Homo sapiens: one gene and its partner. The protein of the gene in region 1 purifies or fractionates together with the protein of each later gene. This does not show direct contact. Each region holds a gene or a part of one and is shown in the gene's direction. Other genes may lie near its edges.

Region 1 (5,550 bases):
GGTTCACAGCAGACTCCAAATAACTGTTTATTGGTGGAGGTCAGCCGGGCAGGGATTACCATCTCCAGTTTATAGATGAGGAAGTTGCAATCAGCCGGGTGCAGGAAAGTTGCCCAAGGTCATCCGTGAGTCAGAAGAAGAGCAAAGACTTGAACTCAGAACACTGGGGGCCTCTGCAGAGTAAGAGGAAGGAGGCTGGGGCTGCTGGGCTGGGCTCTCCCACTCAGGTGGCCTGGGCTGGCAGCTTTATGGGCCCTGTAAGTCGCTGGGACATGTCAGCACTCATTCCAGCTCTAACGACCCTAAATCAGGCCTTGTCCCCTACAGGTAAGCAGGGCCCCAGGTAGTCTAAATAGTGACAGGTGACTGGTTTATGGCAGGCCAGGACTGGGGTCAGGGCTGGAGATAAGGCTGAGAATGTTAAGACCAGGAACAGGAAGAGAGGGCCACTCACCCTGTGTAACCTTGAAGTTAGAGATGGCAGATGGAGCAGGAACCAGTCCACCACCCCATCGCCAATGTGCAGGCTCTGTGGTGCCCATAATTAAGATGCACCCATAAGAGAGTGTATAGCTTTACCCCTCCCGCATTCCTCAGAGGGGATGCCCTACCAGGGACTCGTTCTCCTCACCCATCTTTATGGTCCCAAAATGCACCCAGGGCCCCCCTCTCTCCTGGGGGGCCTGAATGCAATGAACTTTAAAGTGGATCATTGATCAACAGTCCCTTAACCCCACCAAAGTTTCCCAAGCCTCTCCCCTGCTCATCAGGGGGCTGGCCAGAGGTCACAGGGACTCCCTGGGGGTGGTTTTTATTCCCAGGAACAGGCTTCCTCAGTCCTGAAAGGGACATTTTTATAGCCCTGTGAACACAAATGCACTCCCCAGAATAGGCTCTGGGTGTGGAATCCCTCCTGTGGCTGTCATGGTCGCAGGCTGGTGATTACATTATACAGTGGTGTTGACAATAGAGCCCTAAGCCTGGCATGGACACCCCCTCACCTCCCTCCTGCCTCTCTGTAGGATCAAAGCTGCTCTGTGAGGCTGTGTGATCCTGGGCCAGGAGCGGGGAGTCAGCCTCAACCCTAAGCAAGGAGGAAGCATCTTTGCCTGAATCCTTCTGGGGGAGGCAATCCCCCTTCAGAAGTCCCTAGCCCAGGTTCGAAGGTCGGTAGGGACTGAGAGGTTGGCAGCGGATGGGGAGTGGCTAAACCAGAAAAAGGGGGCTTCCTGTTGATGGATTGATGGAGGAGGTCCAGGTCCACTGCCTGGTTCCCCGTCCCTCTCCCGCACCCCAGCCTGAGCTTCCCAAACTCCCACAGAAGCCCCCACCCCATGTGGGACACAGAGGACCTGCAGTAGCAGGAGGGCACAGCTAAGAGAGGAGACAAGAGGCAGCTTGGGGGCATGGGGGGGACCCCATTTCCCCAAATGTTGGAGCCGCCCTTAAGGGAACTTCCCCTGGACTCCTCTGGAGGTCTTGCCAGATGGGAGAACCAGGGGTCCATTCAGACCCCAGTCTCTTCTCTTCCCATCTCATCTCTCCACCTGGGGGGCTCAAAGAACCTAGCTCCTCCCCTTTGACCCCATCAGCTTCTCCCTCACCGAATCCTCTTACAATCCATTTCTTAATTCTGCCCCATCAACCCTCCCTGGTCATCACATAAACACCAGCAAGGGCAGTAGTTTAGGGACAGCTTTGCTCTGTATTCGAAGAAAGGTCTTTGGTCTGCTTAGAAATTAAGTTTGGAGCAGCCTGGGAGGAAATAGAAGAGATGAGACCCAGAGAATCAATGGCCACTGCCAAAGAGAGATAGGAGAGCCTTTCTGCGGCCACTGATTCAACAAACGGCATCACACGCCCCTCAGCCTCTCATCTCTTCGAGGCCATCTCCACCCCCACCCCCACCCCCACCCCAAGGCCATTCCAAGGTCCCATTCAAGACCACTGCGCAGGGGTGGCGCCAGAATGATCAAAGTCATCATGGGGCACTCATCTTTGTGTGGGTCAAGCACTTTGTGGTGTCGTGTCCCTGTTCCCAAACCAGGGACCAGGAGTAGGATGGGGGAGGGGCAGGGCGCCGCTGCTGAGTGGAGAGGACGCGGAGTGGGTGAGGGGGCCTTGCGCACAGGGCAAGAGGTGGCCAGGCAGGGCGGGGGACCGGGGAGAGCGGAGGATTTCAGATGAGGGACAGGGGAAGGTGGAGAGGGGAGGGCAGGCCCCGCCAGGGGGAGGAGCCGCCTCCCGCGTCCAGCTGTCGGGGCTCCCTCCCGTCGCGGCTCCGCTATAAAACCCAGGCCGGCAGGATCGCTGCACCCGCGGCGGCCTCCTCGGTGCGCGACCCCCGGCTCAGAGGACTCTTTGCTGTCCCGCAAGATGCGGATGCTGCTGGCGCTCCTGGCCCTCTCCGCGGCGCGGCCATCGGCCAGTGCAGGTGAGCTCCCGGGCTCCGGCCCCAGGTGCCCCTCGGCGGTCCCCTCCGTGCCCCCAGCTCCCGCCCCTGCAGAGGATCCCCCCGCGGGCGACCGGTGAGCGTCGGTGGCGCTGGGGTCCCGGGTTGCGTGTGCGCCGGGGGCCGCGAGGGTGCGGGAGGACTGGGCAGCGCGCGAGCTTGTGTGTGCACACGCGTGTCAGCACCGGCTGGGGGAGCGTGTGCACGGGTGTGCGCGGTGAGGGTGTGTGCGCGTGGCCCGGCGAGACGAGTTGGGAGTCCCTGATAAGGATGCGTCTCAGGCCGGGCGCGGGTGCTCCAGCCTGAAATGCCAGCACGTTGGGAGGCAGAGGCGGGTGGATCACCTGAGCCCAGGAGTTCGAGACCAGCATGGCCAACATGGTGAAATCCCATCTCTACCAAAAATACAAACATTAGCCGGACGTGGTGGCACACGCCTGTAATCCCAGCTACTCGGGAGGCTGAGGCCCGAGAATCGCTTGAACCCAGGAGGTGGAGGTTGCAGTGAGATCACGCCACTGCACTCCAGCCTGGTGCTCCGTTTAAAAAAAAAAAAAAAAAAAAAAAAAAAAAAAAAAAAGGATGCTTCTCGGACCCGCCTCAACGCACGCCTTCTTTTCTCACCCAGCCTCCTCCGTCTGCCCGTGGGTTTCCGTCCGTCCCGCTGGGACTCAGCGCTGGGTGACTGCCCCGCGGCCAGAGCAAGGGCGGTCTGGCAGGGTCCTGGAAGCCGCGCTTCCCACACGGGTTCCTTGCCCCTGAGGGTCGCAAGCTCCCCTGGCCTCCCTAACCTCCAGCGCTGAATTGGGAGCCTGGCGGGGGCGGGGGGTGGGGGACCCGGAGCCCCAAGGCCTCTGCGGAGCCGGTCTTTCCGGACAGGGTGATTTTCGTTTAAAGATTAATGGTGAAGCCGAGCTCTTAATTATTCCTCTAGGTGGGAGGTGGCAGGAAAGGCATGTTAATATTTGATAAGAAGCTAAAGGCGCTTCAAGCGGCTGGGCACAGGGATCCGATCCTGGAGGCACCTTCTTTGCAACCCCAGACCCCATCACCGGAAGACCCCCTCTGCCAGTTCTCAGCCCAACCACCCCTCGGATGGTTCTTGGGGTCCACGCAGGCTGAAACCTCCTCTCCCAAGTTAGGTGCTCCATCCTCAAAGCGGCGGAGTGAGGGGTGAAGGTGTCCTCTGCACAGAGAGGAGCCAGCGTGTGCCCTTTGCAGCAGGGACTGGCTGAGCTGTCTTAGAGGGTCGAGGGGCACCTTGCAGCCTCTCCACCGGGCCCCTGGGAGAAGAAAGAGAAAAAGCAGAATGTGGAAACTTTTATTTGTAGGGTTGGACATTGGAAACCTACTAAGCAGCTAGAAAGTAGAAAGAGAAATGCTTTGCAGTTCTGGTGCTTTGTAGCTGTGTGGTCTTGGGTAAGTCACTTCCTGTCCCATTTGCAAAACAGGTGTTGTCATTCTGACTTCAGGGGTTTTAAGCGTTTGAATAAGATAATGGGTTTAAGTGATTAGTGCGGTGCCTGTGTGGCACGTGGCTGGTGTGTCATATACCAAGTTTATGGGGCTCTCCCCCAAGCCTGGGGCCAGTGTCAGGAATGTGTCTCAGCTCACCCCTCACACAAGCTGCTATCCCCTTTAGTGCCAAGGCTTTCTGACTGGGACCTGCCTTCCATTCATCTTATGGAGGACTCAAGCTGAGAAGGGACCAGGTTGCATATGGCGACCCCCAGAGCATCTCTGTCCATTGAGACAAGAGGCCGGGTGAGGATATTTGGTCCCCTTCAGAGCCCCAGACCCCTGGCCGGGAGCGACTGAGACTTTGCCCAGGAAACACTTGGGTTGTGCTGAGCTGTTTTTCAGGATTATCCCCTGTCCCTCAGAGGGGGAGGTGGGGTGAGCAAGGTCCATTAGAGAGGCTTCTTCAGCCATCTTGAAATAAGGGGGAGGGGTGGCAGGTCAGTCAGTGTGGGGGGCAGTAGCTGGGTGACAGGCGACTGACTTTCGGTCTCTAACCTCTGGTCAGGGTGGATGGACTAGGTAGGATGTGGCGCTGGACACCGAGACCTCTGGGTAGGTAGCCCCTCTCCTTCCCAAGCCCTCTTGGGAGTGGCCTGAGTCAGTGGGCTGGTACTTACCTGCAAGGGTGGCCCTCTCATTCAACGAAGACAGGAACCTGAGTGGTGGGTGCTCCTGCCACCAGCACCCCACCCTCATCCACCGACATGGACCTGACCCCTGGCCTTGACCTCACCACCATTATGTTTTCCTGGCTGCTGCTTCCTGAAGAAGGTAGTTACAAGTGCGTTCAGCCAAGCAGGTCAAAAGTCTCCATGATTAAGACAGTGGATCACAGGTCACCACTACAAACCTAGGAGCTGCGGCCAGAGCCAGGGAAGACCAAATTCCTAAGAAAAGCTAAGCCTGGACCAGATGGGCCCCAGGGAGGCTGTGAGGCGAGTTACAGGGGGCTCCACCCTTTGCAGCTGGCTCTTGGGGATGCTGGCTGAAGGGAGGCTTCTCCTGGAATGGCTGCCCCCGGGCCCTCCAGTCAGAGAAGAGGCCAGCCCAATCTTCAAAACCCCTTCCTCCTTCAAGACCTCTGCGGGTGGGGACATGGGATGATTATGGCAAGGAACTGTCATGGTGCAAATGCCCTCTGATTTATTATCTCCTTAGTCACCAGCACTGGGAATTTGGTGGCTGCACCTGTCAGAGGCGTTTGAACCAGAGTGACTCCATTTTGGGTGAGAGCTAGGAAAATGAGGCCGAGATTTGCTGGGCTGCATTATCAGAAAGTCAGGCATTTCTAGCCTCTAGATGTTTGCAGTTAAGGGAACAAATTAATAATATTTACTACACAGACCCAGACTTGGGAAGGTCCAGATACTCCGATATCTGGAGAGCAAAGGCATTCCTAATTTTGCTTTAAAAATAATAATGTTGGCTGGGCACGGTGGCTCACACCTGTAATCCCAGCACTTTGGGAGGCCGAGGCGGGTGGATCATTTGAGGTCAGGAGTTCGAGACCAGCCTGGTCAACATGGTGAAACCCTGTCTCTACTAAAAATACAAAGATTAGCTGGGCATGGTGGTAC
Region 2 (4,957 bases), on another chromosome or scaffold:
GGTTTGCTGCACCTGTCAACCCATCACCTAGGTATTAAGCCCAGCATGCATTAGCTATTTATCTTGATATTCTGCCTTCCCCCACCCCTCCCCAGAAAGGTGCCAATGTCTGTTGTTCCCCTTCCTGTGTCCATGTGTGTTCAGCTCCCCCAATACATGAAAATATGTGATGTTCGGTTTTCTGTTCCTGTGTTAGTTCCTGTGTTAATGGCTTCCAGCTCCATCTATTGTCCCTGCAAAGGTCATGATCCCATTCCTTTTTATGGCTGCATAGTATTCCTTGATGTATATATACCACATTCTCTTTATCCAGTCTATCATTGATGGGGATTTGGGTTGATTCCACGTCTTTGCTATTGTGAATAGTGCTGCAATGAACATACACATGCATGTATCTTTATAACAGAATGATTTATATTCCTTTGGGTATATACTCAGTAATGGGACTGCTGGGTAAAATGGTATTTCTGGTTCTCGGTCTTTGAGGAATTGCCACACTGTCTTCCACAATGGTTGAACTAATTTACATTCCCACCAACAGTGGGAATGTAAACAAAGTGGGAAATAGGAACAGTGTTCCTATTTTTCCACACCTTTGCCAGCATCTGTTGTTTCTTGACTTTTTAATAATTGCCCTTCTGAGTGGGGTGAGATGGTTTCTCATTGTGGTTTAGATTGCATTTCTCTAATGATCATTGATGATGAGCTTTTTTTCATGTTTTTTGGCTGCGTGACTGTCTTCTTTTGAGAAGTGTCTGTTCATGTCCTTTTGCCCACTTTTTAATGGGGTTATTTTTTTCTTCTAAATTTGTTTAAATTCCTTGTAGATTCTGGATAGTAGACCTTTGTCAGATGCATAGATTGCAAAAAATTTCTCCCATTCTGTAGGCTGTTCACTCTGATAGTTCCTTTTGCTGTGCAGAAGCTCTTTTGTTTAATTAGATCCAAATTGTCAATTTTTGCTTTTGTTGCGATTGCTTTTGACGTTTTCATCATGCAATCTTGCCTATGCCCATGTCCTGAATGGTATTGCCTAGATTTTCTTGTAGAGTTTTCATAGTTTTGGGTTTTGCACTTAAGTCTTTAATTCATCTTGAGGTAATTTTTGTATAAGATGTAAAGAAGGGGTCCAGTTTTAATTTTCTGCATATTGCTAGCTAGTTTTCCCAGCACCATTTATTATATGGGGAATCCTTTCCCCATTGTTTGTTTTTGTCAGGTTTGTCGAAGATCAGATGGTTGTAGATGTGTGGTCTTATCTCTGATTTCTCTATTCTGTTCCATTGGTCTGTGTGTCTGTTTTTGTACCAGTACCATGTTGTTTTGGTTACTGTAGCCTTGTAGTATAGTTTGAAGTCAGGTAGCATGATGCCTCCAGCTTTGTTCTTTTTGCTTAGGATTGTCTTGGCTATATGGGCTCTTTAGGTTCCATATGAAATTTAAAGTTATTTTTTCTAATTCTGTGAAGAATGTCAGTGGTAGTTTAATGACAATAGCATTGAATTTTTAAATTACTTTGGGCATTATAGCCATTTTCATGGTATTGATTCTTCCTATCCATGAGCATGGAATGTTTTTCCATTTGTTTGTATCCTCTCTGATTTCCCTGATTAGTGGTTTTTAGTTCTCCTTGAAGAGGTCCTTCACTTCCTTTATTAGCTGTATTTCTTAGGTACTTTATTCTGTTTGTATCAATTATGAATGGGAGTTTATTCATGATTTAGCTCTCTGCTTGTCTATTGTTGGTGTATAGGAATGGTTGTGATTTTTGCACATTGATTCTGTATCCTGAGACTTAGTTGAAGTTGCTTATCAGCTTAAGAAGCTTTTGTGCTGAGACAATGGGGTTTTCTAGATATAGGACCATGTCATCTGCAAAAAGAGACAGTTTTACTTTCTCTCTTCCTATTTGAATGCCCTTTATTTCTTTCTCTTGCCTGAGAAAGAACTGGCCAGAACTTCCAATACTATGTTGAATAGGAGTGGTGAAAGAGGGCATCCTTGTCTTGTGCTAGTTTTCAAGGGGAATGCTTCCATCTTTTGCCTGTTCAGTATGATATTGGCTGTGAGTTTGCCATAAATGACTCTTAATTATTTTGAGGTATGTTCCATCAATGCCTCTACTTTATTGAGAGTTTTTAACCTGAAGGAATGTTGAATTTTATTGAAAGTAGCCTCCTTTCTTTGTCCCTTCAACTCAGTGCTCTTTTGGGAAGAGTTCAAGCACAAAAATAGCGTTTATTTTTTAATTTGCTACTTAGACTAACTGTAGGGACTAGAAGATTCTGTCTCTTTCCCTGTGTTAGCCTGTAGCTAAATGCTTTTCAAATATGTGAACGGTTTATCCAAGAGAGTTTTAATTCCTCATAACTCAGTTTCTCTTGAGACACAATTATGGAGTCAAACTCAATTCCTCATGAGGTCCGACTTTTAAGATTTTTGTCTACATTTTCTTCCCTTTCACTTTTTTCGGTAACTTGTGATATTATTTAAGTAAAACAACTAAATGTCTAAGCATCATAAAATGTGTAGGGGGAAATGGTTTATGAATTGCCATGCAGTGCTTGTGTAGTTGCCTTGTGAGTTTTTTTTTCTGAACCATTCCAGGTTCCTACATGTGCTGCTAAAATAAACACGTGTACTCTTCTGTTCATCTTCCAATTTTTTTCCTCAGCCCCATTTGCACTCTTTCTTGACATTACTCTCTGATTCTGTGGTCTGTGACTATCCACCTGAACCCATCACCTTAACCAACTTAGAGAGTTCAGTTGCAGAAGATTTTCTTGTAAATGAAACTCTAGCTTATTGATCAGTGGTGTTGCTCCTCATGAAAAACCTTTTCAGAGATTTACAAATTGAAGAAGCATGGTAATTTGTAGTCTTGTAAAGAATGATATCCAGAAGATTCTTTAGTTATCTGCATACAAAGCTAAATAGTTAATTTGATGTTTAAAGTATTACTCAGACTTCATACTGTCATCCTATGGACAGTTGCAACATCTTCGCTATTTTTTCTCGTAATAGATATTTTAAATTAATTTCATACAGTTGCAGAATCCAGCCTACTTCTGAATTTCTTCCATTTAAAATATACATAAAACAAAGTCAAGAGATAAGTAGCAGATTGGGGAAAAATCTTTGCAATATTATGACAGAGGCCTAATTTCCTTAATATCCATAGAGCTCTTCAAATGGCTAAAAAGAATAACCCAATAGAAAAATAGCAAACAATATAAGCATGAAAAGATGTTCACTCTATCATTAAACATAAATCAAAACAAGTTGCAGTTTTCCAGCTATCAGATTAGCTGAAATGAAAATGTTGGAAAAACCTCAGTGTTAAAGAGTAGGAAAAATAGCGTGTTGTTGAAATTATGAATTGTTAAACTTTTCTGAAGGGTGATTTGGCAATATTTTTGAAAATCTGAAATGTACATACACTTAGATCAAGAAATTCCACAGATATGAAAAGATATGTTTGTAATGATAGTCTTTGCAGCATTATTTATAATAGCCTAAACTGAAAGTGACTTCTATGTCCCTTAGTAGGAGGGTTTACAGTAGTAACATTGTTTATTGAGCCCATGGAATAACCTGCAGCCACTAAAAAGACGTCCTAGCTTTACAGGAAAAAAAAAAAAAAGAGGGAAAAACAAAATATAAAAGACTGAATAATATCCCGTTTGTATAAAAAAAAAGAGGATAAAAGGATCCTATAAATACTTGTATGTGAATAAAAGTTCCTTGAAAAGAGGAAACAGATAATTATGGCAAGAGGGGGTAGAGATCAGAGATCCAGAGGATAGAGAGTGACACTGGGAGAGTAAGAGAGAGAGAGAGAGAGAGAGGCCAAGACTTTAATGTAATTATTTAAAAAATAAATAATTTTGAATATGTCAAAACAATTTTGTGTGATAAATGTGATTTAGGTGTGTTGAGAGACAGTGATAAACAATCTGATTCATATCGCTTCTCTTTTCCCGACCCACACAGTCCTCCTGTCCCCACCTTCATTTCCACCTATAATAGTTATGCTTTCATGAATATTAGCTGAGTGTTTTCACTTGCCTTAGGGGACTGCTTTTGAGAGAGAAAACAAGTATCAGTGAAGTGGCCTAAGGGCCGGCAGTGGAGGGAAAAATAAAGACTTTGCCCAGTATTTAAAATGAAAAGCTATCTGCTAAAAATGAGCCATTCTTTGGTAATTTTAATTAACCATTTAAAATAATTCAGATAAAAGCAATGACATTTTCCTAAAGATGAATTTGGTTTGGACTTCCTGTATAATTATTTCAGTTGCCTATTACTCCTGTAAGGAAAACAAGGTTATTAAGTTTTTCTGAAGCTCTTTTTCTTTTAGCCCCTAGGACATTCTCATTTCTATGTCTAGTTTGGGGGCAGACGCTTTGGATTATTGATGGAGTTCTTTTTAGAAATGGACTTTTACCTTCTTTAAATAGCCCTGGACATGCCTATGTCTCATCACTACCCAGGAAGTACATTTTGACACCTGGATTGAGTTATGAAATATATCTTTTACTCCTCACTTTTTCCAGTTGCCGAGCATTTTAAATTTGCCCAATAGCATTTTACTTAGTTTATTTTAATACTTCAGAAAGTTATTTAAAGGTTTGTTGACTCAGTTTTTAAATCAAACAACTGTTCTACATGTTATTTTAATATTTAACATAAAATTCAATTTTTACATATTTTTCAGCTGTCCCCTCTGCCACCCTGAGGACTTCTTGTATCATAAATTTGTCATTCATTTTGCCTTAGAGATCCTTTCCTCAATACTGCATTTGGGTGTCTGAGAGATATATCCAGAAATATGCTATGTCCAGTGTTAGGCTTCTACCAGCTTTCATGCACGGTTGAGTAGGATGTTTTTTCAAGTTTATTTCTGTTTGTTTTTTTTTTTTTTTTTTTGCAGCCACCAAAGTTCTCCCTTTGCATT

The links.
Region 2: the proteins of CA4 (region 1) and ALDH1A2 purify together in Homo sapiens (affinity purification with mass spectrometry; one large-scale study listed by BioGRID and IntAct). This does not show direct contact.

The regions. Positions count from the first base shown.
Region 1 is NC_000017.11:60,147,659-60,153,208, forward strand, and holds the start of CA4 (carbonic anhydrase 4 preproprotein), read left to right. Parts: upstream 1-2,314; 5' UTR 2,315-2,376; coding exon 2,377-2,434; intron 2,435-3,106; exon of another isoform or gene 3,107-3,871; intron 3,872-5,550. UniProt on the Homo sapiens protein: Catalyzes the reversible hydration of carbon dioxide into bicarbonate and protons and thus is essential to maintaining intracellular and extracellular pH. May stimulate the sodium/bicarbonate transporter activity of SLC4A4 that acts in pH homeostasis.
Region 2 is NC_000015.10:57,995,190-58,000,146, reverse strand, and holds part of ALDH1A2 (retinal dehydrogenase 2), read left to right. Parts: intron 1-4,957. UniProt on the Homo sapiens protein: Catalyzes the NAD-dependent oxidation of aldehyde substrates, such as all-trans-retinal and all-trans-13,14-dihydroretinal, to their corresponding carboxylic acids, all-trans-retinoate and all-trans-13,14-dihydroretinoate, respectively.